Homo sapiens: one gene and its partners. The protein of the gene in region 1 interacts with the protein of each later gene in a pairwise test. Each region holds a gene or a part of one and is shown in the gene's direction. Other genes may lie near its edges.

Region 1 (4,295 bases):
GGCCAGCAGTGATCCCTCGTTATTCAGCAGCCTGGTGAGGGGCGGGGAGGGATAGCGATGTGCTCAGAGCGGGGAGTAAAACGTCTGGGTTTCCATCCCAAGTCCCACCAAGGGCACATCCAGCAAGGCTCTGGCCTGAGCGTGTCCCGGAACATGCCCTAAGCACCCAGCACACCGGCTTCCCTTTTCGACAGGGGACCTCCCGGCCGGTATCCCCAGCCGCTGCCCCCTCTGCCGCTTCCTCCCTTCCTGGTGATCCTTCCCCACCCCTCCCTCAGGGAGCCGCGCGCCGCCCCACTGCAGCGCTCGCCGCTCGGGTCCGTGGTCTGCACTCACAGGGTGCTCTGGACGCCTCCAGTGTTGGCTTGGCTTAGCACCTGGGTCAAAGCCTTGGGGCGCAGCATGCCTACGGTTCCTAACCCTGGGCTTTTGCACCCAGATCTCCGAGGTGCCTCCCGCGGGCCGCTGCCCGCTGCTTCCCGTAGTCCCGTTGGCCTGCTCCGGGACGCCCTGGGAGTTGTAGTTTCTTCGCCTGGCTATTGTGGTTCCGACTCAACCCCGCCCCACCGCGGGGGGCTCTGGGAATCGTAGTTCTTTGTGGCCTCGCGAGGCACCCTGGGAATTATAGTTCGCCTTTCCAAGCCGACCACGCGGTTGTTGGGGGGCGGAAAAGAACGGGAGTGAAAGGACAGCAGCAGCGCTGGAAGGACATTTAACCCCTTCGGGGAGAAAGGAATCAACGTGTCCGCTTGGCAGTCCACGATTCAATAATTATACTACATCCTCATATTTGTCAGGCACGCCTTTGGTTACTTTCAAAACAGTTTTCTCCGTTATGCACAATTCTGTGCGATGAGGCGAGAGGTACTATTATTATTATCTTGAGGAAACCAAGGCTCTGAAAGGCCACGCAGCCAAAACCCAGCTCCCTGGAACCGTTCTTAATAGACCATTCAGGCCGCGACCCTCGGGGCTATAGGGTCAGTCCCAGAGCTGAGAACCTAGGTGGACGTGCTTGGTGGGAAAACCCAACCTCCAAGTCGGGAAAGTCCCCTGGCCTGGAAGGGACTTGGGCTTCCAAGAAAGACCAAGTTATCACAGGGAACGGAGATAAAGCGGCGACACAGAAAGTCCTTTGTCCCGGAGCCGAGTTAGCCGCGGAGGGGGCGGGGAGGCTTTGGGCTGGAGGGGACCGCGGCACGGCTCGGGCGGGCAGCGTTGGGTCGCGGTCTCCCGGGGCAGTCCGCCCTCGCCCCCGCAATGAAGGGCACGCCCCTTCCCCCTCCCAGAGGCCCCCCAGGGGCCCCCGCCTGGCGAGACCCTGGCCGGGCTCCGGACCTGGGGCTTGGCCCTGGGCGGACCCCGCTGCAGTGGCCCCCCCGGTCCGCCCGGGGCGCTGTGGCTGCGGCTGGTCCGGAGGGGGCGGTGAAGCCTCGGGGAGGGGAGGGGAGGAGAGAGGAGGGGAGGGGAGGGGAGGGGAGAGGTGGAGAGAGGGGAGTGTTGGAGGCGCAGAAGCCGAGCCGGGCCGGCCGGGCGGGCGGGGAGGAGGAGGAGCCGGGCGGGCTGGCGGGCGGCCGGGTGGCGGCGGCGGCATGGCGGAGCCGAGCGGGGCCGAGACGAGGCCCCCCATTCGGGTCACCGTCAAGACCCCCAAGGACAAGGAGGAAATTGTGATCTGCGATCGAGCCTCGGTCAAGGAGGTAGTACAGCAGGCGGGGGGCGGGGGGAGCGCGGAGGAGGGGTCTGCGAAGAGATGGGGGGCCTCTCTGACGGTCCGGCGTCCCGGAGGGCCCCGGAGAGGAGGGCGGGGGCCGGCTGGGACTCCGAGGAGCTGAAGGCAAGGAGAGGCGGGTAGGGGGCGCCCTGCGAGGGGAGATCTGGGGGAGCGTGGCGCGTGTTGAGGGGCGGGTTTTGCCTTGTGGCCTGGGGGCGTGGTGGAGAGTGAGGAGGGGACACCTTGCACCGGGAAGGGGGAAGGACCCTGGGTTTGAGGGGAGTGTGCCGGAGTGGGGGCCCGGGCTAGGTGCTAACTGAGAGAACGGGCCGGGGGCAGGCGGAGAGCGCCGGCGCCTACTCTGTGCCTCAGAGAACGCCCAGTGTTCTCTGAGCGACGGGGCTGTCGGGGGAGGATTTCCCTGTGCCCAGATCCTTCCCACTCTTTCAAATCGACGTGGTTACATTTGGTTCTCAGCTCTTCTGAGATTTACACGGTGTGCAGTAGGTGCTCAATAAAATCTTGTTGAATGACGGACTGTTGCCTGTGTTCGCCACCCCCTGTGGCCGCTCCATAATTTCACATAGGCGGGGCTTAAGATAGGCCATCTGGTTGGAAGAGAGGGATCTGGAAGCAGCCTCTGCTTAACAAGTGCACTGTTTTTACTTAAAGTGTGTGTTGTGTTTTGTTTTGTGTTGTGTTTTGGAGGGGCTGGTAGAATTTGGGAAGTCTAACTCCATCCTTGCTCCCTCCCTAACCACATAGAATTACTAAATTTCAGAATTTAAATACTGTATGTTCCCTACAAAGCTGAATTTGAAAACGGCTCTCATTGAGAGGCAGTGTGTTTAGTTAAGAGCCTGGACTTTGGTGTCAAGACCTGAGTTCTGGTCTGCCTGGGGCAAGTTACCTTACCTCGCTGATCCTCAGTTTTCTCATCTTTAAAATGGAGATACGGCTGGGCGTGGTGGCTCACACCTGTAATCCCAGCACTTTGGGAGTCTGAGTCTGGTGGATCACCTGAGGTCACGAGTTCAAGACCAGCCTGGCCAACATGGTGAAACCCCGTCTCTACTAAAAATACAATTAGCCAGGCATGGTGGTGTGTGCCTGTAGTCCCAGACACTCGGGAGGCTGAAGCAGGAGAATCACTTGAACCCGGAAGATGGAGGTTACAGTGAGCCAAGATCGCACCTCTGCACTCCAGCCTGGGCTACAGAGCGAGACTCCATCTCAAGATAAAAATAATAATAAAATGAAAATAACAATATACTATATCTTTAACTGGTGAATAGGTAGTGCTCAATAACTGGCATCTATTTGTTGTAGTTGTTAAGAGAATACTGGGAATAGAGAGGAGAGAAAATTGGGTCTCAGAAGGCTGAAGGTCCAAAGCTGTTGAAGGAGTTGGGATGGGAGGCTGCTCTGCCTTACAGAGAACTAGGTGGAGGGACTGAAGCTGGGAGGCAGATAGCAGCAGGGGCTTTCTAGGGTGGGAGACTCTGGGATGGAGCTGAGAGAAGAGCCTCTCACTGGTTCATCTCCTTTGTTAAGAAAGGAGATGCTTATTGCAGCTGGAGGAATGGCGTCGAGACTACAGAAAGGACTTCCCATGACTAGAGATGAGAGCAAGAGAGTGCAGAAGGTGTTGAAAAAGAGTCAGGGTCCCTGGTAGGGGGAGTCCAGGCAGCCTCCACAGTGACCTCTGCCTCTTGATCACAGTTCAAAGAGGAAATCTCCCGGAGGTTTAAGGCTCAGCAGGATCAGCTGGTCCTGATCTTCGCAGGCAAGATCCTCAAGGATGGGGACACACTGAACCAGCACGGAATCAAGGACGGGCTCACTGTCCATCTGGTCATCAAGACCCCTCAGAAGTAAGTTCAGGAGCAGAGCAGATCCAGCTTCTGATTGGGCCTCCCCATCTGATACTTTCTCACTCATTGCTTAACTGTACCCAGAGGGCCTAAGCTGAGGCCCAGGCAGGTAGCTCCTGGATGAATATGATCTCATCTCTAGGGGAAGGGAACCTGATTTACCATTCCCAGAATGCCCTGAAGACAGATAATACTAGCTCCTTTCTCCCTCTGCTGGTTTACTGACTGCCCTCCCGCCATCACCCCACTCCAGCCTCAGGACTGCTCAGGAGGGGTCTTGGGTTAAAATAGTTGTCCCATAGCAAGCACAGAGATTGTCACGGTACCTTCCCTCTTCTAGTGCTCACTCCAACAGGATTCTCCTTTCTCTGTCCTCAGGGCTCAAGATCCAGCTGCTGCCACTGCTTCTTCCCCCTCCACACCTGACCCTGCCTCAGCACCCTCCACCACGCCTGCTTCACCCGCCACCCCTGCCCAGCCCTCCACCTCTGGCAGTGCCTCTTCAGATGCTGGCAGTGGAAGCCGGAGGAGCAGTGGTGGGGGGCCCTCTCCGGGGGCTGGGGAGGGATCCCCCAGTGCTACTGCGTCCATACTCTGTAAGCCCTCAGAGAGGAGAGCACAATCTTGTTTGGGGTTGGGGAGTTGGGGAAAGCCAAGAGGAGGGAGAAACAGGAGTTCCTGCTCCTGGTCTGATGGGGATAGGGGAC
Region 2 (2,247 bases), on another chromosome or scaffold:
TTTATCTTGTTACTTAGCCCTTATAATAACCATATAAGGCAGACACCATTATTACTTCTATTTTACAGATGAGTGATGGGGAAAGAGCTTTTGGAAGTTTGAGTTAATTCCTTATGGTCATGCAGCTAAGTAAGTGTCTGAGACTACAGAATCTGAATTATTTCCCACTATGCAGTGTTTTGTCTGGTTTGTTTCCCTATCTGTCACCCTCACGTGACATATAATAGACCTCAATAAAATAGTTGTTAAGTAAGGGAATGACTGAATGACTGGTCATAGCTATTCTCTAAATGTTTCTTGAGTGAATTTATTTATATAGTCAGAGGAAAATGAATAATGGTTTCTTTTTCTCTTTAGCAGGAATTTGACCCTCTAGGGCATGAATACTGTGCTGTTCAGTTCTGAGCTGTGCTAGCAATACCCTTCAAAGGAAGAGCAATGGCTGCAGCAGCAGCTTCTCACCTGAACCTGGATGCCCTCCGGGAAGTGCTAGAATGCCCCATCTGCATGGAGTCCTTCACAGAAGAGCAGCTGCGTCCCAAGCTTCTGCACTGTGGCCATACCATCTGCCGCCAGTGCCTGGAGAAGCTATTGGCCAGTAGCATCAATGGTGTCCGCTGTCCCTTTTGCAGCAAGATTACCCGCATAACCAGCTTGACCCAGCTGACAGACAATCTGACAGTGCTAAAGATCATTGATACAGCTGGGCTCAGCGAGGCTGTGGGGCTGCTCATGTGTCGGTCCTGTGGGCGGCGTCTGCCCCGGCAATTCTGCCGGAGCTGTGGTTTGGTGTTATGTGAGCCCTGCCGGGAGGCAGACCATCAGCCTCCTGGCCACTGTACACTCCCTGTCAAAGAAGCAGCTGAGGAGCGGCGTCGGGACTTTGGAGAGAAGTTAACTCGTCTGCGGGAACTTATGGGGGAGCTGCAGCGGCGGAAGGCAGCCTTGGAAGGTGTCTCCAAGGACCTTCAGGCAAGGTATAAAGCAGTTCTCCAGGAGTATGGGCATGAGGAGCGCAGGGTCCAGGATGAGCTGGCTCGCTCTCGGAAGTTCTTCACAGGCTCTTTGGCTGAAGTTGAGAAGTCCAATAGTCAAGTGGTAGAGGAGCAGAGTTACCTGCTTAACATTGCAGAGGTGCAGGCTGTGTCTCGCTGTGACTACTTCCTGGCCAAGATCAAGCAGGCAGATGTAGCACTACTGGAGGAGACAGCTGATGAGGAGGAGCCAGAGCTCACTGCCAGCTTGCCTCGGGAGCTCACCCTGCAAGATGTGGAGCTCCTTAAGGTAGGTCATGTTGGCCCCCTCCAAATTGGACAAGCTGTTAAGAAGCCCCGGACAGTTAACGTGGAAGATTCCTGGGCCATGGAGGCCACAGCGTCTGCTGCCTCTACCTCTGTTACTTTTAGAGAGATGGACATGAGCCCGGAGGAAGTGGTTGCCAGCCCTAGGGCCTCACCTGCTAAACAGCGGGGTCCTGAGGCAGCCTCCAATATCCAGCAGTGCCTCTTTCTCAAGAAGATGGGGGCCAAAGGCAGCACTCCAGGAATGTTCAATCTTCCAGTCAGTCTCTACGTGACCAGTCAAGGTGAAGTACTAGTCGCTGACCGTGGTAACTATCGTATACAAGTCTTTACCCGCAAAGGCTTTTTGAAGGAAATCCGCCGCAGCCCCAGTGGCATTGATAGCTTTGTGCTAAGCTTCCTTGGGGCAGATCTACCCAACCTCACTCCTCTCTCAGTGGCAATGAACTGCCAGGGGCTGATTGGTGTGACTGACAGCTATGATAACTCCCTCAAGGTATATACCTTGGATGGCCACTGCGTGGCCTGTCACAGGAGCCAGCTGAGCAAACCATGGGGTATCACAGCCTTGCCATCTGGCCAGTTTGTAGTAACCGATGTGGAAGGTGGAAAGCTTTGGTGTTTCACAGTTGATCGAGGATCAGGGGTGGTCAAATACAGCTGCCTATGTAGTGCTGTGCGGCCCAAATTTGTCACCTGTGATGCTGAGGGCACCGTCTACTTCACCCAGGGCTTAGGCCTCAATCTGGAGAATCGGCAGAATGAGCACCACCTGGAGGGTGGCTTTTCCATTGGCTCTGTAGGCCCTGATGGGCAGCTGGGTCGCCAGATTAGCCACTTCTTCTCGGAGAATGAGGATTTCCGCTGCATTGCTGGCATGTGTGTGGATGCTCGTGGTGATCTCATCGTGGCTGACAGTAGTCGCAAGGAAATTCTCCATTTTCCT
Region 3 (3,500 bases), on another chromosome or scaffold:
TTGGATGCTGTATTTCACCCTTAGGTGTTGGGCAAAGGCTGACATGTCTGCAGAGGGCAGGGCGTGTTGTTGGCAAAGCTAGCCAGAGGCAGAGCACTCTCTCACTTTTTGATAGAGACATGAGTTCAGAGAAGTATTGCTCAACTGTAGGAGTGTGAAAGTACAGTAATAGATGTGAGGGAGGCCACAGGGCAGAGGTCTGCAAACGATGGACCCTCAGCCAAATCTGGCCCACTGCCATTTTTTTTTTTTTTTTTTTTTTTTTTTTGAGATGGAGTCTCACTCTGTTGCCAGGCTGGAGTGCAATGGCACGATCTCAGCTCACTGCAGCCTCCGCCTCCCAGGTTCAAGAAATTCTCCTGCCTCAGCCTCCTGAGTAGCTGGGATTACAGGCACCAGCCACCATGCCTGGCTAATTTTTGTATTTTTAGTAGAGACAAGGTTTCACCATGTTGGCCAGGCTGGTCTCGAACTCCTGACCTCAGGTGATCCACCCCCGCTTGGCCTCCCAAAGTGCTGGGATTATAGGCGTGAGCCACCACGCCCAGCATTTTTTTTTTTTTTTTTTTTTTGAGGCAGGGTCTAACTCTGTTGCCCAGGCTGGAGTACAGTGGCACAGTCTCGGCTCACTGCAGCCTCCGCCTCCTGGGTTCAAGTGATTCTCCTGCCCCAGCCTCCCAAGTAGCTGGGACTACAGGTGCACGCCACTACGCCTGGCTCATCTTTGTATTTTTTTGGTAGATACGGGGTTTCACTGTATTGGCCAGGCTGGTCTCAAACTCCTGGCCTCAAATGATCCACCCACCTCAGCCTCCCGAAGTGCTGGGATTACAGGCGTGAGCTACCGCATTCAGCCCCACTGCCTGATTTTGTTCATAAAGTTATATTGGTATGCAACCCCTCCTGTTTACACATTGTTTATGGTTGTTCTTGTGGTCTAGTGGCAGAGTCACTGCAAAGACTTTTTCTGTCCTTTACAGGAAAAGCATGCTGGCCCTAGCCATAGGGAGTCATGGTAGCTGTGGCCACCCAGAGAGGACGTTCCAGCCACCATTGCAGTTTAGCTGGTGTTGCTAGGTAGATCATGGATCTAGGTCCAGCCTGCAAATATTGCCATCTTTCCTGATTTTCAAGGGAAGCTTGAAATCTAGATTTTTTTTTTTTTTTTTTTTACTGTGAATATTCCTTTTTTTTTTTTTTTTGAGACGGATTCTCATTCTGTCGCCCAAGCTGGAGTGCAGTGGCATAATCTTGGCTCACTGCAACCTCCACTTCTTAGGTTCAAGCAATTCTCCTGCCTCAGCCTCCCGAGTAACTGGGACTACAGGCGCTCGCCACCACACTTGGCTAATTTTTTGTATTTTTTAGTAGAGACAGGGTTTCACTGCATTAGCCAGGATGGTCTCGCTCTCCTGACCTCATGATCTGCCTGCCTCGGCCTCCCAAAGTGCTGGGATTACAGGTGTGAGCCACTGAGCCCGGCCAAATATTCCAATTTTTAAACATCAGCTCAGTTTTTAAAAGCCAAACCTTAGTAACCCAAGCAAAACACATCTACAGGCCAGTTTGTCCGTCGTCAGTCTGTCTTGGTGGGAAAGACAGGAACTCTGGAAACAGATTTGGGTTTTCTCAGTCCCTGGATATCCTTGGGCAAGCTGCATGTCTTCTGGTGACTCACTTTTCTCAGTTGTGGTATGGAAATATCCCGCTTCCCCAGTTGTGAGGACCAACGAGAATTACTAGTCAGGTGGAGGGGCTTAGCACGGTGCCTGGTGCCTGGTAAACCTTTACCTGGTAGCCATTGCTGTTATTCATTTATTTATTTATTTTACACAATAATTTACTTATTGAGAGCCTTCTCTCCCCGCCCTTGCAGTCTCTAGGTCACTTTTTCCACTTGTAGATTTTGTGCACAAGCCCCAGAAAGATGGCTGGGGGCAGGGGCTCTGCGTACTATTCGATGAGACCCATAACGTGGCTGTAACTGTCTTTCTCATACTGCAAGAACACGGCTGGCAGATCCAGCTCCTCGTATAGTGCCTTCACCCGGGCCACCTTCTCGGCCTCCTTCTGCCTGTAATTTTCCTTCAGGATCTGGTACTGTTCTGGAGTGGCCTGTAGCAGACACTGAACCACCAGCCAGCTGCATTTGTTGTCCTGGAAGTCATTGCCAACTCTGCCAGTCACACTGGGGTCCCCAGAGAAGTCAAGGTAATCATCCTGAATCTGAAAGAACTCTTGAATCTCCAGCAGGATCTTCTTGGCACTGGTGTGCTCCTTCTTGTCATCCATTCTTGACATGTACATGGCTGCAGCTACAGGAAGGTAGAAGGAGTAGAAAGCTGTCTTGTACTTGACAACAGATTTGTGCCTTTTTTCGGTGCATCTGCGAAGATCCACATTGCCCTGGGGGGTTGTGATGAGGTCGAGGGTCTGCCCAATCTCAGTCTGATAAGAATTCTGCTGGAAGAGCTCCATCAGGTTCAGGTAATAGGGCTGCTCCCGGCAATACAGCTTCAGCAGGCAGTAGATACATGCTTCCAGAAGGATAGCATCATTGATGGCATCCAAACCCATGCCCAGCTTCTGATACCAGGAGATCTGTCCCTGGCAGGTAAGGGATGAATCCATAATGTCATCTGCCACCAGGAAGAAAGCTTGCAGCAGTTGCGCATACCAGCCCACAGTCGGTGCCCACTGGAGACTATCAGCATCCAGTTTCCTCGGCTCCACCAGCTCCCGGAACGCTACTAGCACCATCAAACCTCGGTGATACTTGCCTCCAATGGCATTGTACTCCAGGACCTCCTTGAGCCGGGCAGTAGCATCTCCTGTCTCTGGGTGCCCCATCTCATCCTCAGTCAGCACCCTAACGATCTGGGAGTAGTGCTGAACGAAATCCTGCTTTGCTTGGGCATAAATATCTGATTTCTGGTTTCCATTCGTTCTTTTTTTTTTTTTTTTTTTTTTTGAGACGGAGTCTTGCTCTGTCGCCCAGGCTGGAGTGCAGTGGCGCGATCTTGGCTCACTGCAAACTCCACTTCCTGGGTTCACGCCATTCTCCTGCCTCAGCCTCCCTAGTAGCCGGGACTACAGGCACCCGCCACCGCGCCCGGCTAATTTTTTGTATTTTTAGTAGAGACAGGGTTTCACCATGTTAGCCACGATGGTCTCGATCTCCTGACCTCGTGATCCGCCCGCCTTGGCCTCCCAAAGTGCTGGGATTACAGGTGTGAGCCACCGCGCCCAGCCTGGTTTCCATTCATTCTGAGGGAGGAGCAAAGGGCTGTGTTCCTGGATGCGGGTTCCTGCTTGGCTGTTATTTATTTTTTTTTAAAGAGACAGGGTCTCGCTCTGTTGCCCAGGTTGGAGTGTAGTGGCACGATCATAGCTCACTGCAACTTTGAACCCCTGGGCTCAAAGCAGTCCTTCTGCCTCAGCCAGTCAAAGTGCTGGGATCACAAGGTGTGAGCCACTGCACCAGGCCTGCTATTACTGTT
Region 4 (3,500 bases), on another chromosome or scaffold:
TCATGATCTGCGCTTCACTGCCAGCTTGCCCTACACGATGGTCCCAACATTCCTAGGGGCCTTGGGGGACAGAGGGATTTTTGGAGGTCCCTCCTATTGTCTGCCCACCAGTGCTTATGTCTGGCATAGCAAAAATAGAACAAGACACCCCTTTGGAGCCCAGGCTTCATTTAAAGGCAAAGACATTTGAAGAAGGCTCAGACATGGGGTAGAGTGATGGTGGTGGGGAGGAGTGGGACAAAGGGGGACCCTGGGGACAGAGGCTTCAAACCCAAACCAATCCTTTGCCTGATTTCCCTAGAGTTACCTCACACATGGCCCTGCATTTGCCCAGAAAATTAAGAACCAATCAGCAGGCTGTCCCAAGGGGCAAGAGGCACTGCCTGCTTTAATGAGTGTGCCCCCTCCCACCCCCAGGCTTTCTCTGGCTGCCTTTGCTGCCTAACTAGTCTGGGTAGGAGAGGTGCCACTCACTACAGAGACTTGTTCCCAGTGCCTTTTGCATGTGTGGGACCCGGTCCAGCAATGGCAGGACACCTGTTGAACATCACCCAACCCCATGGCAGCTGGGCCAGGTTGGGAATTTGCTGGCAGCTGGCACAGAGGTGCCCAGGTGCAGCAGTGAGAGAACAGGAGCAGGCTGCTGTGGTAAGGAGGGGTGGGGATTGCCCGGGCAGAGCCATACCTGGAGGGGCACCAGTCAGCAGCGTGAGCTCAGTCTTCACACAGACCCCTGCCCTGTTCCCTTTGAGCGTCAGTCCCCTCATCTCTACACTTGAGGGGGTGGGATTGGACTTGGTAATTTTAGGGCCTGCCCTCTCTGACATCTTGGGGGGCTGTGATTTCTCACCAACTGTCACTGTGCAAAAGCACTGTTTGACCTGGGTTTGACCCCAGCTCTGTAACTTACTGGCTGCATGACCTTTGGTAAGCTGCTCCTTTCTCCAGACTCATTGATTCCAATCTGTTAGGAGAACTCAAAGGATAATCTTTGCAAAGTGTCCAGGCCCAGGGTCCAAGGTAAATGGGTTCCACTCTTAACAGAGCTGTACCTCCCCTAGTGCCAGTGTCCCCTCTGAGGCCAGCCTCACCACTGCCCTTTTCACATCTGGCTCCAAGTAACAGAAACCCCAACTTGGATCGGCTTAAATACTAAGGATATTTATTGTCACACACCACATCAACTCACGACATAGAATGCTGCCAGAATTGGTGGATGCTCAGGCTCAGAAGCATCCTCGAGGTCTCAGGATCTTTCCAACACCCCGAATTACCATCTTCAGCTGGCTAACGGCTCATGGGGGCACTTCATCCAAATAGAATGAAAGACCAGCAGATAAGAGGCAGCCTCTCTTTTTTTTTTTGCGACCAAGTCTCTGTCCCCCAGGCTGGAGTGCAGTGGCGCAATCCTGGCTCACACTGCAACCTCTGCCTCCTGGGTTCAAGCAATTCTCCTGCCTCAGCCTCCCGAGTATCTGGGATTACAGGCGAGCGCCACCATGCCCAGCTAATTTTGTATATTTAGTAGAGATAGGGTTCAACCATGTTAACCAGGCTGATCTTGAACTCCCGACCTCTGGCGATACGCCCACCTTGGCCTCCCAAAGTGCTGGAATTACAGGCCTGAGGCACCGCACCCAGCAGCACCCTCTCTTCTTGTAGGTGGTTTTAAAGAGCAACTGGAAACCAACCTTACCCAGCCATCCCTCAGCAGACCTCCTTCCTGTCTGATTAGCCAGGATTGGGTTACATGCACTTCCCTGAGCCAATCACTAAGGAGGGGTGTGGCTCTGCCTTGCTGGTATAAATGTGGAAGGTTATGGAGGCGGAGCCACCCGAACCCAAGGGCCATCTGCTGGTGATGAGGCAAGGAGGGGCATGGTGGTGGGCTAGGTGGCCCTCAGTGGAGCCTGGTGATGATGGCAAAGGCTGAACTGGTGAGTTAAGGGGTAGATGGCCTGTCGGACTTCACCTGGTCCAGCCTGCTGGAACCAACATAGGGTGGGCCGTGTAAGTTACTCCTACCCCGGCACCTTGGAAGGGGCCCATTGCCCAACAGGCTGCTCCTGTTGTTCTGGTCTCCTACAGAGCTGGAGTGGAGCTCCGGGAAGCCATGTGTGCCCACCACCATCCCCTCCTCTCTCAGCCCCACAGCTGGCCTGTCCCCAAGCTCTCCTGGGGCCCCTTCCATCCCCACAGACCCTGCCCTAGTGCTAGCCTCCCCTCAGGCCCCTGCCATCCATTCTCTGAGGAGCAGCCAGGGCATCCCCTGCCTAGCCCTTCCCCTGGGCCCCCTGTTACTATCACGACAAGGCAAATCCCACTCTCAGCCAGGTCCACAGGCCCTGTGCCCTCCAGCCTCCTGGCTTATGGCTCCAGCTCATACAGGCATTCTGCAGCCCCACTGGACAGCTTGCTGTTCTCCACACCCACACTGCCCCTTCCCACCTCCAGCCTCCACCTCTGCTGCACTCGCAGTCTGGAATGGCCTTCCTCTTCCTTACCTACTGCCCTTGTCCTTCAGGTCCTCCCTGAGGAATGGGGTCAGAAGTCATGGCTTTCTCCTCGCACACCCCAGCTCCCACAACCACAGCTTGCTTAGGACTCTACATGTTTGTGTGTGTGTGTCTGTCTGTCTGTCTGTCTGTCTGTCCCCTATCCTCCTGGATGATGGTGGGCTACAGGGTCGGGGGCAGAGTCTGGCTCTACAGCACCCCACAGGCATCTGGAATGGAGAAGCCCCCCAGAGTCAACATTTGCTGAGTTCAGTGAAGTTGAACTTACATCTTAATAGCAAAACATCCATTGTCTCCTTTAACCTTACAACAGGCTTTCAAAGTGAGGAGTTTGAGGCATATCCCCATGGGATGATGGGAAAAGTAGGTCCCAAAGAGGAGAAGGGACTTGAAGGCCACACAGCAAGGTTGAGGCAGACCCAGACCCAGAGCCAAGGGGTCCTAGATCCCTAGAGACCCCAGCCCAGCATCTGCTCCCAGCAGCTACTCCTCCAGATGGCGGCCACTATGCCTGGGCAGAGCAGGCAGAGGTGGATGTGGGTGGGCCCAGGGGAAATAAGGCGGTGGGCGTGGAGGGGCCATGGAATGAAGGCTCTGTCCCCAGGGGAAGCAGGTCTGCCTCCATGGCTGGGGGTTAATGGCTTTTCTGAAGATCACAGCTGAGGGTTAATGACATTCCATAATTCCACTACCGCTGTGGCCCTTCCATTAGCATCTGCAGGCGATGCCTGCCTCTCCCCGCCCCCATCCTGCACACACATCAGCCACAGTACCCTCACCAGGGCTCTGGCGTCAGACTGCAGGTCTTCTAACTTTGAGTTCCCACCACTCCTGCCTGCACATGCACAAGACAGGCTGACCCTCCCTCCCCAGTCCTAGGTCTGAAGTGATCTTTCCTAAGTGACTTGCCCTGGGAAACTACTCAGGGAAAGGGCTGTTCCTTATTGGGCCGGCAGCCACTCACCACCTCTGGCTTCATAGGCT
Region 5 (2,922 bases), on another chromosome or scaffold:
TTTCTTTATAAATTACCCATTCTCAGGCAGTTCTTTATAGTAGTGTGAGAATGAACTAATACACCTGTCTCAAAGAAACAAAAAATCCCCACAATACTTACGAGAAAAAGGAAGGTTAGAAGCACAGCACTTAAAATCGTTGTCAGTGACACATGAAAAAAAGATGGGAAACTAATAAAAACAGTAACGCAGTTTTACACATGTTAAAATGGTTAAATACATAAATATTACATAAATATGGCACTTTACCTTGAAGAAAACCTGAAGTTTGCTTGTGGGGAAGTAGGTCTCAGAAGGGTTATAGCTTGTGTGTTACTGCTGCATGGTGGAAGGATGGAAAGTTGTCAGACCAGATGGGTGTGTTTCCTAACACACAGTGAACCAAGGTAGCTGGTAGATATTCAAGGAGTACATGTGGGTGTGGTTTTCTCTGTTCATAAAATTGTACATAAGTGTATTGAAAATTTGTGTTATGTTCAAGTTGTTACCTAATACATCAACCTCATTGAAACAAATTTGTGTTTTCAAAACAAGCATTATAGGAGAACTGATTGTAATTGAAATATTACATAACTCTTTAAAATCACTAGTTTTCAGCAAGTGTTTATAATCCTGGGGATGGAGGAGTAGAAAGCATAATTTGTAAAAGTTCCCAGGTTGATTCTTGAGAGACTGAATTGATTCTTGATAGGGTGTTTCATCTTATCATATTAAACTATGAAAATGAATTTGAACTACAATCTTACATTGGCAGAGCTGTGGTGATATCAGTAGTCATTTTCCTCCTTTGCTAATTTTATTACAATTTTACCTCTCTAGTCTCTCCTAGTTTGTTTTCAAAGTGAGGAGTTAGTTTTTCATACATTAGCCGTTACCATGAGTTAAGGAAGTTCTCAGCCATGTGAAAATTTCTGAAGCTTAGGAAACATAGGGCCAAAGTATAGATACCTCGCTTCTCCCAAGAGAGAGAAGCCTCTAGAAAAAAATGAATAGTTCTAAGAGACCACACATGTCATATGATCATTTGTGATCATATGAGCTACATTTAGTTGACATTGCCTTATTGGTATGAAAATTTATTCAGAGAAATATAATTTTGTTGGCATTATGGTATGCTCACCACCCCCAACAATTCAACAAAAAAAGCACTCTGCATTGTTTTTATTTATTTATTTTGAGACGAATCTCACTCTGTCACCCAGGCTGGAGTCCAGTGGCGTGAGCTTGGCTTACTGCAGCCTCCGCCTCATGGGTTGAAGTGATTCTCCTGCCTCAGCCTCCCGAGTAGCTGGGATTACAAGAATGTGCCACCATACCTGGCTAATTTTTGTGTTTTTACTAGGGACAGGATTTTGCCATGTTGGCCAGGCTGATTTTGAACCCCTGACCTCAGGTGATCTGCCTGCCTCAGCCTCCCAAAGTGCTAGGATTACAGGTGTGAGCTACCATAATTGTTTTTAAAATCATGCCTTAAGATTAGTCAAGGTATTTATAAAGTTTTTTCCATATGTGAAATTTTGTTTTCTTGTATCCTTGTCCTATTTAGAGTAGATATAAAAATTAATCTTGCACCATATTTGTGCAATTAAAAAATATGTATTTTTTTATTGACAGAGTCTCTCTCTGTCGCCCAGGCTGGAGTGCAGTGGCACCATCTTGGCTCACAGCAACCACCACCTCCCCAGTTGAAGGGATCCTTATGCCTCAGCCTTCCAAGTAGTTGGGATTACAGGCATGCGCCACCACACCTGGATAATTTTTGTATAATATTTTTTAGTAGAGACAGGGTTTTGCCATGTTGGCCAGGCTGGTCTCCAACTTCTGGCTTCAAGTGATCTGCCCACCTTGGCCTCCCAAAGTGCTGGGATTATAGGTGTGAGCCACCATGCCCAGCAATAAATATTTTAACACCACAGAAAATGTAAAATTTCTAAGAAAAAAATGCTGTGCTGATGATGATCAGAATTTACTGGTGAAAATGTAAAACAAACAAACAAAAAAGAATTTACCAGTGAAAAGTAAGAGCTATGCAAGGTCAAGAAGTAGATTCTTTAAGTATGACAAGAAATCATTGTTCTAATTGCACTGCTATGTCTTAGTTCCCTGAAGTATTGTTGAAGTATTTGGGTGACTGGAAAATCTATACTGCTGTTTTTCCTTTTTTGTCAGTGAAAGATAAGGCAGAAATACTTCTGCAAGTTGATGAATCACAAAGTATCAAGAATGAGCTCACTATTCAGGTAAGGAACTGTGGAGCATACATGACTGGTTTTCTTAAGCTGTCTTTAGTCTTGAATTATTAAACTTAACAAATACAGCTCATCAACACTGTAAGGATGTAGTATAAATTATACTTTATTATTATGTAATAGCCCATGAATGAAGATTCTGTTTACAGCACTAAAAGAGGTAGGTATGTCCTTCCCCCTGAAGAATAGGGGATGATAAGGCTGTATTTTAATGAACCATGAATTTAGAGACAGAAAGGGCCAATAGAACTTAACCCTGTATCTGGGCTTGATTTTTCTCCCCTTCACATCCTTATTGTCTTCTTCTCTCAGGACAGTTTGCCCCATCTTTAACATAGAGCTGTGTACAATACCAAATGGAAATTATGGGGGGAGCTTCTCTGTTACTCATCCATTTAGCTGTCAAAAACCTATCATTGTGAATATGTTAAGAATTGAGTATTTGCCAAAAACCCCAAAAATTCTTTTTCTTATTGAATATTTGGTTATAGGTGACTTCACTTCATGCTGCATTAGAACAAGAAAGATCTAAAGTGAAAGTATTACAAGCAGAGTTAGCCAAATACCAGGTATGCTTTTATAATTTATAAGTGTTTTTATCACAAATAATACATTTGGAGTAGATACTGTGTGAGAATAAATGCAGTATTTTATTCTTAGGCCAAAATTTATT
Region 6 (4,093 bases), on another chromosome or scaffold:
ACTCAAAAGGTGGAGGGGGGCCGGGAGCCGTGGCTCATGCCTGTAATCCCAGCAGTTTGGGAGGCTGGGGTGGGCAGATCACCTGAGGTCAGGAGTTTGAGACCAGCCTGGCCAACATGGCGAAACCCCGTCTCTACTAAAAATACAAAAATTAGCCAGGCGTGGTGGCAGGCGCCTGTAATCCCGGCTACTCAGGAAGCTGAGGCAGGAGAATCACTTGAACCCAGGAGGCGGAGGTTGCAGTGAGCTGAGATCGTGCCATTGCACTCCAGCCTGGGCAACAAGAACGAGACTCCTTCTCAAAATATATATATATTATATATATATAAAGGTGGAGGAGATGGGAGGGGGTGAAGGATGAAAAATTACTTAATGGGTATGATGTACATTATTTGGCTGATGGATGCTCTAAGAACCCTGACTTCAGCACTATACAATCTGTGCATGTAACAAAAGCACTTGTTTATTTTATTTATTTATTTATTATTTTTTTGAGATGGAGTTTCGCTCTTATCATCCAGGCTGGAGTGCAGTGGTGCAATCTCGGATCACTGCAGCCTCCACCTCCTGGGTTCAAGCAATTCTCCTCCCTCAGCCTCCCGAGTAGCTGGGATTACAGGCATCCGCCACCATGCCCAGCTAATTTTTTTGTAATTTTAGTAGAGACGGGTTTTCGCCATGTTGGCCAGGCTGGTCTCAAACTCCTGACCTCAGGTGATGTGTCTGTCTCGGCCTCCCAAAGTGCTGGGATTATAGGCATGAGCTACCGCGCCTGGCTACAAAAGCACTTGTTACCCCATAAACTTATACAATTTCTTTAAAAAGCAGCCGCGATCTCTTGAGGAGGGCAGAGCCTTTGTGACCTAATCACCTCTGAAAGGCCCTGCCTGTCAACACTGTTGCATCAGGGATTAAATTTATCTTTTGAGATGGAGTTTCACTCTTGTTGCCTGGGCTGGAGTGCAATGGTGCAATCTCAGCACACTGCAGCCTCCGCCTCCCGGGTTCAAGGAATTCTCCTGCCTCAGCCTTCCAAGTAGCTGGGATTACAGGCATCCACCACCACGCCCAGCTAATTTTGTATTTTTTTAGTAGAGCTGGGGTTTCACTGTGTTAGCCAGGCTGGTCTCAAACTCCTGACCTCAAGTGATCCACCCGCCTTGGCCTCCCAAAGTGCTGGGATTACAGGTGTGAGCCACTGCACTCAGCCGGGATAAAGGCTCCACCTGTGAACACTGTTGCATTAGGGATTACATTTCTGACACATGAACTTTGAGGGACAAAAAACATAGCAGAGAACACAGCCAGAGAGGGGCTTGGCAAGAAGCACTGGTGACTGGTGACAGAAAATAGGAACTTGCACTACTGTGTCCCTCACCTTCTGATTGTTCTGCCTCAGCTTCCACTCATCTGCCTCCCAGATGGGCCCGCCACTCTGTCCACACTGCTTCTGCCACCTCACCATTGCAAACCAGTGGGGGTGGGGGCACAGGGTGTGTTCAGTGATGAGGTCAGGAGTAGCCAGGTGCCAAGTGCCTTGCAGGCTGTGGTTGCGAGTTTGGGTTTATTCTTGGTGTGATGGGAGGCGAAGGAAGGGTTTTAAGGACATTGTATTTGGGGGTGGGAGTGGCTTATACTTCATGAAAGAGCGCTCTGCTGGGAAAGGTGGTCAGGAGCCGTAGCCCAGAGGCCAGATGAAGCCTTCTGCAGTGGTTCGGACTAGGGATAGTGGCTGGCCCGTGTTTGAGGATGCAGGGCAGTGGGTCAGCAGATAGAGTTAGTAGCCCCAGGGTCATGAGGGTTCTGGGAACCTCACCTCCACCCTCACCCCCAGATTGCCAAGGACATGGAACGCTGGGCCCGCAGTCTCAACAAACAAAAAGAAAACTTCAAAAATAGCTTCCAGCCTATCAGCTCCCTGCGAGATGACGAGAGGCGGGAGTCAGCCACTGCAGATGCTGGCTATGCCATCCTCGAGAAGAAGGTGTGTTGGGGCCACCCCCCTGCACCCTGCCCCACAATCTTGTCCTTCCTTTGGGCCCTCTGTGGAGTCCCTGAATTTCTGTGTCCCTCCACCCCAGGGAGCACTAGCCGAGAGACAGCACACCAGCATGGATCTCCCGAAATTGGCCAGTGACGACCGCCCAGTGAGTGCCCAAGGCAGAGAGGGGCGGGGGCTCTGATCTGGCCAGGCCTGACCGCCCACCCTCACCCTCTACAGAGCCCTCCGCGAGGACTGGTGGCAGCCTACAGCGGGGAGAGTGACAGTGAGGAGGAGCAGGAGCGTGGGGGCCCTGAGCGGGAGGAGAAGCTCACCGACTGGCAGAAGCTGGCCTGTCTGCTCTGCCGACGCCAGTTCCCCAGCAAAGAGGCGCTCATCCGGCACCAGCAGCTCTCAGGGCTCCACAAGGTAACAGCGGATGGTTGGCAGGGCATGCTGGGGCCTGGCCCACTGAGGCTCATCCTCTTCACTTCTCATCCTGTCCCTCTTGCAGCAAAACCTTGAGATTCACCGGCGAGCCCACTTGTCAGAAAACGAGCTAGAAGCACTAGAGAAGAATGACATGGAGGTGAGGTGTGACCTGACCCTGGGCTCCCTCCCCTGTGTCCCTTCCAAGTCCCCATCACCTCAGGCAGCTGGAGTTCAATTTCTCACGTGTTAACCCCGTGAGCCTTCTTCCCCATTTTCCTATCCTGGCTGCTTGTGCCTGTGATGGCCTGACCCTCAGGACCTGAGCCTCATTAGCCAGATGGCATGCCCTGTGGGACCCCACTCCCCATGCCTGTGTTGCCTGAGAAAAGAGACCAGCTCCCCAACATTCACATACACATACAAACTTTCAGCAAATGAAGTACCGGGACCGTGCAGCTGAACGCAGAGAAAAGTATGGCATCCCCGAGCCGCCAGAGCCCAAGAGGAGGAAGTACGGCGGCATATCCACAGCCTCTGTGTGAGTGGCTGGGCCAGGTGAGGGGGTCTGGAGCCCGGGGCCGGGGCCGGCAGGCCGACCACTCATGCTGTGCACCGCCCCTGCAGAGACTTCGAGCAGCCTACTCGGGACGGGCTGGGCAGTGACAACATTGGCAGTCGGATGCTGCAGGCCATGGGCTGGAAAGAGGGCAGCGGCCTGGGCCGCAAGAAGCAGGGCATTGTAACGCCTATCGAGGTGAGTCTCAGGCAGTCCTGTCCCATCCCCCAGCACCCCTCACAGCATCCCCCACCAGCCTGACAGAGCCTGCCTCCCTCACACAGGCCCAAACACGGGTGCGGGGCTCCGGCCTGGGTGCACGGGGCAGCTCCTACGGGGTCACCTCAACCGAGTCCTACAAGGAGACACTGCACAAGACAATGGTGACCCGCTTCAACGAGGCCCAGTGAGCAGCTTCAAGAGCAACTTCTCCACATGTTGGGTGTCCATCCTGGGGCAGGGAAGGACAGAGTGTTGGATGGCTGGGACGGGGCCTTGCTCTTGTCGGCCAGCCCACTCCCCAGCCAGAGAGGGCTTGACCAAATCAAATTGAGGTGGTGACTTTTGTTGGAAAATTGGGCTGGGATCACGTCCTGTTTTGTAATAAAAGCTGAAAAGTCTGCATGTTGGCCTCTCCTCTTTCTCGTGCTCTAGCACAGTTGTATAGCCTATACAGACACGGGGACCCAAGCAGATGGACAGGGGACCTTATCAGGCCAAGGTGGATGGCAGTGGTGGCATTCAGTGTCTGGAACATAATGGCTACTAGAACATGGGGTTCTGACCTGTACCCCGACCCATAATATCCTGGTTATGGCCCCTCTCCCTTGTTGGTTCCAGCAGGTTATGTTGTACCAGGAAATCTAGCACCACCAGGCATGAAGCGCCCCCTGATCAGAGCTAGGACTGGGAACCCCCATCCCCTGTCCTTGCTGCCCCCTGGCTTTACTTAGCCTGCAGTCCCAAGGCTAAACTGCATTTTGCCATCCCTAGATCTGGAGACAATGCCCTCAGGCATCTCCAAGTAGAATACAAGAGGTACTCAGGTTCCAGTTGGCCCAGAGCCCTCAACAGGCTGATGACAGAGGGGTGGAGGTGGAGCTTGGCCTGCAAATCCAAGGCCA
Region 7 (3,500 bases), on another chromosome or scaffold:
AATCATAAGGTTCCACATGTTGCTCTGCAAGCACTAACTGTGAGTACAAGGCATGTTATTATTTGACGCAAATTTTAAATGTGTTTTTAATTACAGTAAGTTAATATTTCAATATTCATATATTTTTATTTCAATTAATAGCTTCTTGGGGCTTGTGTGGCAAACTGTGGAAAGATATTTCATTTAGAAGTATGTTCCCGTGATTTTGCAACAGAAGTACGTGCTGTGATTAAAAATAAGGTAAATTTTAAAAACAGAAGAACTTTAAGTCATTAAAAAAATGTAGATTGTGTGTCATTATAACTATATGTGGCATTACTAAAGTATTATAAATGAAGTCATTTTTAGATCATTGAAATGAAATAAACTGTTCTGAAATTTGATTTTTTAATGTGTAGCACCAAAAACTATTCTCCCCAAAGTATATATACTGTAAATAATAGCAAATCCTTTTTGAGGGCTAGTAAGTAGTCATTACTTTAAGCATTTTACATATACTGTCTTGTTGAATGCTCTTAACTACCCTTGGAGCATTAGATTCTTGGAAGTTAGATTCCCTTATCATTCTTATTTTATAAATGCAAAAACTGAGACTTAGAAGTAACTTGTCCAAGGTCATGCAGCTGGTAACTGGAATAGCCATGATTTACATCCAGGTTTCTCTGGCTCCATTCTCCGAAACATGGAGGAAATAATCTCTGAATATAAAAGATCTGTTGTCATTATAGTAAGACTTAGGAATTGGTGTTAAAAACAGTCATTTTGTATGAAACAACTATATCACAACATGTAAATAGGCATCTATCAATTACTCAACTAGGCTAGAAATTTCAGGACTTTTGTTGATGTTCATATAATTAAAGAGAATTTTGATGGTAATTCTCCTTGTTAAATAATTTAAGTACTTATTTTAACCGTAGATTTTTGTTTATTTTCCTTTCCTTTTCCTTAAAAGGCACATCCTAAAGTATGTGAAAAACTGAAATCTTTAATGGTGGAGTGGTCAGAAGAATTTCAGAAGGACCCTCAGTTTAGTCTGATATCTGCAACTATTAAATCTATGAAAGAAGAAGGAATTACTTTTCCTCCAGCAGGTTCTCAGGTGAGAGATTTATTCAGACCCATGGTTGACCCTATAATATTTTGAAGGTATGTATGTTATGTAAAGACTAGGCAAGGTATGTCTAGATTATCATTTTCCACCTTTACTTCCCAAATGACTCTCTAGCATAGTGCCTTCCTTACGTTTAGTAGACATTCTAGTTTTTATGTGTATTTCTTCCACATATCAGAACCTTGTGAAGTTAATCAGACATAGTGTATTTAATGTTCCTCTAAGTCTACAGTCATGCAAAAGGCATAGGTATATGACATACCCCTTATATTCAAGAAATTTGTAGCAAATTTGAATGATAGCTTTATACATGTGAAAAATAACTAATTTAGATTGTAAGTGACAAATACAGGATGAGGGGAATAGACTGCATACTGTCTATCTTAATACCAAAGAGAGAAAGAGGTGACTACAGATTGGAATGGTGAAGAAGGTAAAGAGGTAGAATTTTGAGACTTGAATGTATTAATATTTTGTTAGAGAGAAGTGAAGAAGTCATATCAGGAGGTAAGTGAAATGAACAAATTCATGGAATTGAGAGGCTCAAGACTTGTTTGTTCAAGAGTGAATATGCCTAGAGTGAATGCTTCACATACAAGATGGATGGAAATGTAAGACTAGAAATTTATTTGCTGGGAGAAGGGATAGCTTTAGTAGAACTGGGGTGTGGAGGCAGGGATGTTGACTCATGGAGTGGGCTGGTTTTTTTAGGTCTAGGGGAGAAAAATACTATTCCTTGGGTTTTGCTCTCAGTACCTTATTCCTTCCCATTAATATTAAGATATGGGCTAGGGAAAGAGACGATGAGAAGTACTATATTTTCTTTTATTTTAAATCATAGATTAAAGAGAAAAAAAGATTTTTTTTTTTTTTTTTTTGAGATGGAGTTTTGCTCTTGTTGCCCAGGCTGGAGTGCAGTGGCACAACCTCAGCTCACTGCAATCTCTGTCTCCCGGGTTTAAGCAATTCTCCTGCCTCCGCCTTTAGAGTAGCTGGGATTGCAGGTGCCTACCACCATGCCCGGCTAATTTTTTGTATTTTTAGTAGAGACGGGGTTTCACCATGTTGACCAGGCTGGTCTCAAACTTCTGACCTCAGGTGATCCACCTGCCTCGACCTCTCAAAGTGCTGGGATTACAGGCATGAGCCACCACGCTGGCCGAAAAAAGATTCTTTATAGCTGACCAGACCTAAGGGTACAAGGTAACGTTTTGAGATAAGAGTCTTATAAGTAATAAAAAGGAAACATTTTCCTGTTCTGTCCTTTCTGCATATTTTTCTGAAAAATCTATGTAAAGAACCGGTTGATGGATCAGTCCTGGATACCTGTCTTACATGCTGTTTATTAAATTCAAGCATGACCTTCCTTACTTCTCTGCTATGTCTGGCAGACCACTGCCACCCAGCCACAATAACTAGTAAAAGGACTTCACACATATTCCTAGAACTGCACCTCTTGTCTCTGTCCCCATTCCTCTCTCTTCAGTGATGATCATGACTTCTTGCTGGCACTCCTCGTGTAGCTGTACTCCTATAGCAGAGCTCCTCTCACTAAGAGACCTTGGACAATTGAGATCGGGAATACAATCAGAAAAGAGTCTTTTTTAAATTCTATTAATATTTAAGTACTTTCTGTATGCCAAGTTCTGTGTTACATTTATGCAAAATCTAAGCCAGTTTGATCCCTGTGTGAGTTTATAATGTTTTCTTGAAAAATCTGATGTTTTATTTTAGTATTTGAAAACAATTATTTAAAATTATTATAAAGAACTTCACTTTTAGACCAGTGATGGTGGCTCATGCCTGTAATCTTAGCACTTTGGTAGGCTGAGACAGGAGAATCACTTGAGGCTAAGAGTTGCAGATCAGCCCAGGAAACATAGTGAGACCCTGTCTCTACAAAAAATAAAAATTAGCCGGTTGTGGATGCATACACCTCTAGTTCCGGCTTCCCAGGAGGCTGAGGCAAGAGGATCACTTGAGCCCAGGAGTTGGAGGTTACAGTGAGCTATGACTGTGCCATGCACTGCAACCTGGCTGACAGAATGAGACCCTGTCTCAAAAAAGAACTTCACTTTTAAATGAAACTCAGTTATATCAGTATTTTTTAAAATTTACCATCTGCAAGTAATTATGGAGCTTGTGTTTTGTTTGAAAAGATAGTTGTGTTCATTTTACTCATACATTTACAGACTGTCTCAGCTGCTGCCAAGAATGGTACGTCATCGAACAAAAACAAAGAGGATGAAGACATAGCTAAAGGTAAATGATCAAGCACATGTAATTTAGTGTTGCTTAAAATATCTTTGCCAGGGCTGGGCGCGGTGGCTCACGCCTGTAATCCCAGCACTTTGGGAGGCCGAAGTGGGCAGATCATGAGGTCAAG

Evidence for each region.
Region 2: the proteins of UBQLN4 (region 1) and TRIM32 interact in binary tests that used the Homo sapiens proteins (3 or more experiments, as listed by UniProt).
Region 3: the proteins of UBQLN4 (region 1) and DTX2 interact in a two-hybrid assay, tested with the Homo sapiens proteins (one large-scale study listed by BioGRID and IntAct).
Region 4: the proteins of UBQLN4 (region 1) and CCDC33 interact in a two-hybrid assay, tested with the Homo sapiens proteins (one large-scale study listed by BioGRID and IntAct).
Region 5: the proteins of UBQLN4 (region 1) and GKAP1 interact in a two-hybrid assay, tested with the Homo sapiens proteins (one large-scale study listed by BioGRID and IntAct).
Region 6: the proteins of UBQLN4 (region 1) and RBM10 interact in a two-hybrid assay, tested with the Homo sapiens proteins (one large-scale study listed by BioGRID and IntAct).
Region 7: the proteins of UBQLN4 (region 1) and STAM2 interact in a two-hybrid assay, tested with the Homo sapiens proteins (one large-scale study listed by BioGRID and IntAct).

The regions. Positions count from the first base shown.
Region 1 is NC_000001.11:156,050,999-156,055,293, reverse strand, and holds the start of UBQLN4 (ubiquilin-4), read left to right. Parts: upstream 1-1,495; 5' UTR 1,496-1,592; coding exon 1,593-1,700; intron 1,701-3,436; coding exon 3,437-3,588; intron 3,589-3,966; coding exon 3,967-4,184; intron 4,185-4,295. Other genes in the region: ragulator complex protein LAMTOR2, read right to left, coding at 1-31, 337-404. UniProt on the Homo sapiens protein: Regulator of protein degradation that mediates the proteasomal targeting of misfolded, mislocalized or accumulated proteins.
Region 2 is NC_000009.12:116,697,305-116,699,551, forward strand, and holds part of TRIM32 (E3 ubiquitin-protein ligase TRIM32), read left to right. Parts: intron 1-68; exon of another isoform or gene 69-129; intron 130-357; 5' UTR 358-438; coding exon 439-2,247. UniProt on the Homo sapiens protein: E3 ubiquitin ligase that plays a role in various biological processes including neural stem cell differentiation, innate immunity, inflammatory resonse and autophagy.
Region 3 is NC_000007.14:76,468,209-76,471,708, forward strand, and holds part of DTX2 (probable E3 ubiquitin-protein ligase DTX2), read left to right. Parts: intron 1-1,811; exon of another isoform or gene 1,812-3,500. UniProt on the Homo sapiens protein: Regulator of Notch signaling, a signaling pathway involved in cell-cell communications that regulates a broad spectrum of cell-fate determinations.
Region 4 is NC_000015.10:74,274,326-74,277,825, forward strand, and holds part of CCDC33 (coiled-coil domain-containing protein 33), read left to right. Parts: intron 1-3,500.
Region 5 is NC_000009.12:83,741,848-83,744,769, reverse strand, and holds part of GKAP1 (G kinase-anchoring protein 1), read left to right. Parts: intron 1-2,169; coding exon 2,170-2,240; intron 2,241-2,740; coding exon 2,741-2,818; intron 2,819-2,922. UniProt on the Homo sapiens protein: Regulates insulin-dependent IRS1 tyrosine phosphorylation in adipocytes by modulating the availability of IRS1 to IR tyrosine kinase. Its association with IRS1 is required for insulin-induced translocation of SLC2A4 to the cell membrane.
Region 6 is NC_000023.11:47,183,221-47,187,313, forward strand, and holds the end of RBM10 (RNA-binding protein 10), read left to right. Parts: intron 1-1,834; coding exon 1,835-1,984; intron 1,985-2,081; coding exon 2,082-2,147; intron 2,148-2,221; coding exon 2,222-2,410; intron 2,411-2,495; coding exon 2,496-2,570; intron 2,571-2,844; coding exon 2,845-2,951; intron 2,952-3,037; coding exon 3,038-3,167; intron 3,168-3,253; coding exon 3,254-3,379; 3' UTR 3,380-3,593; downstream 3,594-4,093. UniProt on the Homo sapiens protein: Binds to ssRNA containing the consensus sequence 5'-AGGUAA-3'. May be involved in post-transcriptional processing, most probably in mRNA splicing. Binds to RNA homopolymers, with a preference for poly(G) and poly(U) and little for poly(A).
Region 7 is NC_000002.12:152,144,764-152,148,263, reverse strand, and holds part of STAM2 (signal transducing adapter molecule 2), read left to right. Parts: coding exon 1-39; intron 40-141; coding exon 142-240; intron 241-955; coding exon 956-1,102; intron 1,103-3,306; coding exon 3,307-3,376; intron 3,377-3,500.